Linked DNA regions of Homo sapiens: region 2 is linked to region 1. The links come from fine-mapping of genetic effects on gene expression. A gene starts in region 1. The other region holds a variant in brackets. All regions are shown on one strand. Distances are from middle to middle. Region 1 holds the start of GOLIM4 (golgi integral membrane protein 4). Region 2 has its middle 77 kb from the start of GOLIM4.

Region 1 (2,911 bases):
TTTAGTTATGAGGAATTTTAAAGAGATTCCAGTAATTATCCAATGTTAATTTCTGAGAGTCAAACTAAAAAAGAGGAATTTAAAGTGGTAGATTTAATAATAAGGAAGATTATGTAGTATTTACACAACAAAACTCCCAAACTCCTTTAGACTGTTTTCTTTTACAATCAGATTCTCATGTTAATGGAGATATAATTTCTTACTGTAACTTGTTTAATAGAATGAGAACATTGTTTCTATTGAAGAAAAAGACATAGAGCAGGGTTTGGATCTGGATTCTAATCTTGCTGAGTAACTAACTTTATGCAAGACCTAAAAGGTCCTAGAGCTGTCATAGTCACTTTGATAAACTTTGGCTTCTTTACCAACATGAAAGTCTAACACCCTGGCTGTGATCAGTGAGACAGTGTATCTGCACACGAAAGCATTTTGAATAATTTAACGCAAGTTATTATTTATTAAGGAAAAGCACATGCAAGACACACTTTATTTTTACAGTGGTATAAATGCCACAGGGTAGCATCGTTATAAATTCAGTTTATTTTAGGGCTTTAGCAACCTATAATTTCAGAGTCCACCTAAAAAAACTTTTGCACCAGGAACTGTCTTTCTGTTGCATTTAGCTAAAGAGATTTACCCCCATTTTGAGCACTCAGGCCCATTAGCAATGGTAACGACTAAAGTCCAGTTAGAATATAAAAATTATGCAGTGTATCATAAATTACACCACACTATACAGACAGATAAAATTTACTTTTCTTAGAATTCAGGTCAACAGCAGAAACAAAAATTATCATTTGTGCATAACCTTAATTATTCCCCTCAAGTACACAGAAAAAATAAATGCAGTATACATTTCTTCGAAGAGGTTTGTGGTTACTACCTTTCCTGTGCTGTACTAGTTTTTACATAGGGAACCTTTGTTGCCCTTTAAAATGTAATTTAGAAATGTAACTGATGTGTTTTGCCACCAATAAAACAAATACATATGACAAAATGAATGGATACTCATTTCAGTCTGTACGATTTGTTTTTAAATTATTCTATTTGCAGCTAGAGGAGAAATGTGAGACCATTTCTTTCCTCTCTGCCAATGGCAAGCCGATTTCCCCAGCCCACGTGGACAATTGAACATTAAGTCTAGCGTGCTTCCAGTCTCCCGACTCCTGCCGGGCCATCTGTGGGCACACACACATCTAGGCTAGTACACTGGATGGGGTAAGGCAGTCGACATGGCATCTCTGGTTTGACTACCGGGATTGTGCTATGTAGCTATCCCATGTGTCTGCCGCATCAGTTTATTGGACAGGGAAAGAAAGTGTACTCAGCAGAGTGCACACAGTTACTGCCATCCATTCTTTCGTTCATACACACATTTTACTCCGCTCTCCACGTGCGTTCCGAACGAGAACTGGAACACACACACACACACACACACACACACACACGTGTTCACCGAACCTCACCCAGACTCAGGCCCGGACAAGTCCCCCGCCCACCCAAAGCTCCCCGCCCTTCGCCCTTCCGCCTGCCTCTTCCCACCCTCTCCGACTCCACGTGGGCGCACCCCGGCGCCAGGCGGCCGCGCTGCCCACAGAGCCCCTAGCCGGCCCCGGCACTGGGAGGGAAGGTGCGGCCCTGGGGTCGGACGGACAAAGCCGGCATCCAATCGAGCCCGGCACTGCCTCCCCGAAGGGAGGGAGCGTCTGCTCGGACGGGCCCAATGAGCAAGGAGGCCGAGTGGGACTTCCTCCCGGAATCCCGTTGGCCAGAATAGCCGGGCCGTGGGTGACACGTAAGTTGGGCAGGAGGTGGCGGGGCGGCAGAGGCACCAGCCGACCCGTCAGTGACACCGCTGTGCCGTCCCCAAAACCAGCCGAGACAGCTGGCCCCCACCCTTCCACCCATTGGGCAGGCCGCACGGGGGCGCGGCCCGGAGTCCTGGTCCCTTTGTTGGGCGCGCACCCCCTCCCTTAGGTGGCAACAAAGTCGTGCAGTGGGAGCCGCCGCGATAGGGCGGGGAGTGGCCAGGGCGGGACTCCAAGAACTGCCCGGGGGCAGCGGGGCCAAAAAGTGGGAAGAAGGAAAAAAGGCAGGAGGCATCTGGGGACAGGCGCGAGGGCAGCCGGCTCTGAAGTATGCGGAGGGCCTCCTCCCGGCCCCGGGCATTCGCGGAGAACGAGCCTCGCAGAAGTTTGGCTGCAGCTGCCCGGGCGGCGTCGATGGCTGCGCGCCCCGCGCCGCGCGGGGGCTGAGCGGGCGCCACTTCCCCTCCGGGCCGGCTTTTGTGTCTGGCATCTCCTCCTCATGCTGCGTCTGGCCACCTACTGCGGCGGCCGCTGCTGAGACGCTCGCTCGGACCAAGGGGAGGAGACGGCGGGGGCGGCCGCGGCTTTGGGTCCAGGCGGGACTATGGGAAACGGGATGTGCTCCCGAAAGCAGAAGCGGATTTTCCAGACGCTGCTGCTGCTGACCGTCGTGTTCGGCTTTCTCTACGGCGCGATGCTCTACTACGAGCTGCAGACGCAGCTGCGGAAAGCCGAGGCGGTGGCGCTCAAGTACCAGCAGCACCAGGAGTCCCTCTCCGCCCAGTTACAAGGTACGGCTAACGGGACGCGCGCAGCCGGTGGCCAACTTTGCCCCGCGCCTCCACCCGGGCAGGAAAAGTGGCTTTGGTGAGCTATTGGCACTGTGGTTGCCACCTCTGACCTTCAGGGACGTCAGAGGTGAGCGTTTCAGGACTGCCGGCACCAGAGTGTCAGGGGAGATGACATTCTCATCCTCCCGCTTCTTCCTCCCAGCGGTTAGGTTTAGAACTTCGTAGCACCAGCCCATCGTCCCGCTGGGCGTTTGGTGGGCGGGTGCACAGATAGTCCTTTACCCGAGCTCTTGTCAAAGGCCCAGCTGCAAT
Region 2 (2,911 bases), 77 kb before region 1:
TATATTTCATAGGATGTATGGAAAATCTTGGATATCCAGACAGAAGCTGCTGCAGGGACAGAGCCCTCATGGAGGACATATACTAAAGCAGTGCAGAGGGGAAATGTGGGGTTGGAGCCCTCATACAGGGTCCCCACTGGGGCACTGCCTGCTGGAGCTGTGAGAAGACAGCCACTGTCCTCCAGACCTCAGGATTGTAGATCCACTAACAGCTTGCACCATGTGTCTGGAAAACCTACAGACACTCAACACTAGTCTGTGAGAGCAGCCATGGGGGCTGAACACTGTCAAGCCACAGGGGAGGAGCTGTTCAAGGCTTTCAGGGTTCACCCCTTGCACCAGTATGCCCTAGATGTGAGACATGGAGTCAAAGGAGATTATTTTGGAGCCTTAAGATTTAATGACTGCTCTTCTGAGTTTTGGACTTGCACGGAGACTGTAGCCTCTCCCTTTTGGCCAATTTCTCCCTTTTGGAATGGCAGCATTTACCCAATGCCTATACCTCCATTGTGCCTTGGAAGTAGCTAACTTGTTTTTGATTTTACAGGCTCATAGGCAGAAGGAACTAGTCCTGTCTCACATGAGAATTTGGACCACAGACTTTCGAGTTAATGATGGAATGAGTTAAGACTTTGTGGGATTGTTGGGAAGGCAGGATTGTATTTTGAAATGTGAGAAGGCCATGAGATTTGGGAAAGGCCAGGGTAGAATATGGTTTGGATCTCTGTCCCCACCCAAACCTCATGTCCACGTGTAATCTCCAGTGCTAGAGCTGGGGCTTAGTGGGAGGTGACTGGATCATGAGAGTGGATCTTTCATGAATGGGTTAGCACCATCCGTTTGGTGCTGTTCTTGTGATAGAGTTCTCACGAGATTTGGTTGTTTAAAAGTGTGTGGCACCTCCCTGCTCTGTCTTCCTCTTGCTCCCACCATGTAATATGAGCCTGCTTGTCCTTCACCTTCCACCATGATTGTAAATTTCCTGAGGCGTCCCCAGAAGCAGAAGCTACCATGCTTCCTGTAGAGCTTGCAGAACCATGAGCCAATTAACCTCTTTTCTTTATAAATTACCCCAGTCTCAGGTACTTATTTGTAGTAGTGTAAGAATGAACTAATATAAACACAAACGAAAAAGACAAAAAAAATTGATATTTTAAACTTAATAAAAATTTAAAACTTTTGCTTTATAAAAAATACAAGAAAAATTCTTATCCAGACGAAATGGCATAGACTTCTTTCTCTCTGCTCCCCTCTGCTAAATATAATCATAATCCTTGCAATACCACAAGAGACAAGAGATCACCAAAGAAAAAATCTAAAAGGTCAAAAGAGGAACTAGTGTGAGATCCTAGGACCAGAATAATGACACAAGGGAAAGGCATGTTACCTCCCTTCACCCCACAGAAGAAGGCAACCCAGACCTGGTGTTTCCCAAACCTCAACCTAGCGACAGAAGGTAGTCCAGGTAGGACCATTCTATCTCTACAATAAAAGAGTAGTCCTCTGAGGACACTAGATAAGCATGGCACCACTGGCAAAGGGATGGGTCCCAGGGCCCAGTTCAAAACAATCA[T/G]CCAGGGAAGCACTCTCTGTCCCTTACAAACCCAAGACTTCCCTCCTGCAACTAGATATACCAGAGTGGCAGTGGCATCAGCAATAAGACCTCTGTCACAACAAATCCTCTTTGTCCTCAAAGACCTGAGACTCCCCTTCTGCACCAAGAGACATCAGGCTTCCCAGCATGAGAAAACTTTTACACCCCATCAGCACCAGCAGAGACCAGTGGCAACCCCAGGCAAACCAAGAACAAAATAACATCACAAAGGCTCTAAAAATTAAACTTTCATTGGAAATACAGACCACAAAAGTAGGCCACAAACTTCACACTGAACCTAAGCAGTGTGACTGCCTGCTAAAAGAGAAAAAGAGAGAGAGAGAGAGAATTGAATTAAAATGTAACATACCAAAATATGTAGAATGTAGTTAATGCAGGGTTGAAAGAAAAATTTATTCCCCCAAATATTTACACTGGAAATAGGGAAAGGTCTCAAATCATTAATCTAAGTCTCTACTTCAAGAAATTAGAAAAACATGGTTTAAAAAAAATAGTTAAAAAGAATAAGACCTACTATTTGATAGCACAACAAGGTGACTATATTCAATAATAATTTAATTATATAGTTTAAAATAACTAAATAGTATAATTAGATTGTTTGTAATCCAAAAGATAAATGCTTGAGGAGATGGATACCCTATTCTTCATGATGTGATTATTAGGAATTGCATGTCTGTATCAAAACATCTCATGTACCTCATAAGATTATACACCTACTATAAACTCACAAAAATTAAAAATTAAAAAAAGAAATTAGAAAAACAAAAGCAAACTAAACCCAAAGATAAAATGATGGGAATATTAAAGATATGATCAGAAATCAAGAAAATTGGCAATAGAAAACCAATAGAAAAAAAATTCAGTAAAGCACAAGCCAATAAAATTGATAAAACTCTAGCGAGACTAGCAATAATGAAAAGAGAAAACACAAATCACTACTATGAGGCATGAAACAAGATATATCACTACAGGTCCTGAAGCCATTAAAAAACACAATAAGGGAAAACTACACACAACTTTACACTGATAAATTTTAAAATTTAGAAGAAATGGACCAATTTCTCAAAAGTTACTAGCTGCCAAACTTCAACCAAGATGAAATAGTTTGATTTGTACTATAACTAAAGAAATGAATTAGTAATTAAAAGGTTCACAAAGAGGCCGGGCGCAGTGGCTCATGCCTGTAATCCCAGCACTTTGGGAGGCTGAGGCAGGCAGATCACCTGAGGTCAGGAGTTCGAGATCGGCCTGACCAATATGGAGAAACCCTGTCTCTATTAAAAATACAAAATTAGC

The links. PIP is the estimated chance that this variant, and not a neighbour inherited with it, causes the effect.
Region 2: its variant is the best candidate, but not a certain one, in a credible set for the expression of GOLIM4 in visceral fat (GTEx, PIP 0.78).

What each region holds. Positions count from the first base shown.
Region 1 is chr3:168,094,787-168,097,697 of GRCh38, reverse strand. It overlaps GOLIM4 (golgi integral membrane protein 4), which reads left to right and starts at 1,774. Exons shown (of 16, transcript NM_014498.5): 1 at 1,774-2,599. The coding sequence starts at 2,413. RefSeq lists enhancers at 999-1,048, 1,246-1,747 and silencers at 1,419-1,658, 1,949-1,998.
Region 2 is chr3:168,171,593-168,174,503 of GRCh38, reverse strand. No RefSeq gene overlaps it. Among named protein-coding and RNA genes, the nearest start is that of GOLIM4, 77 kb to the right of the region's middle. The variant T/G (reference allele first, on the strand shown) is at 1,574.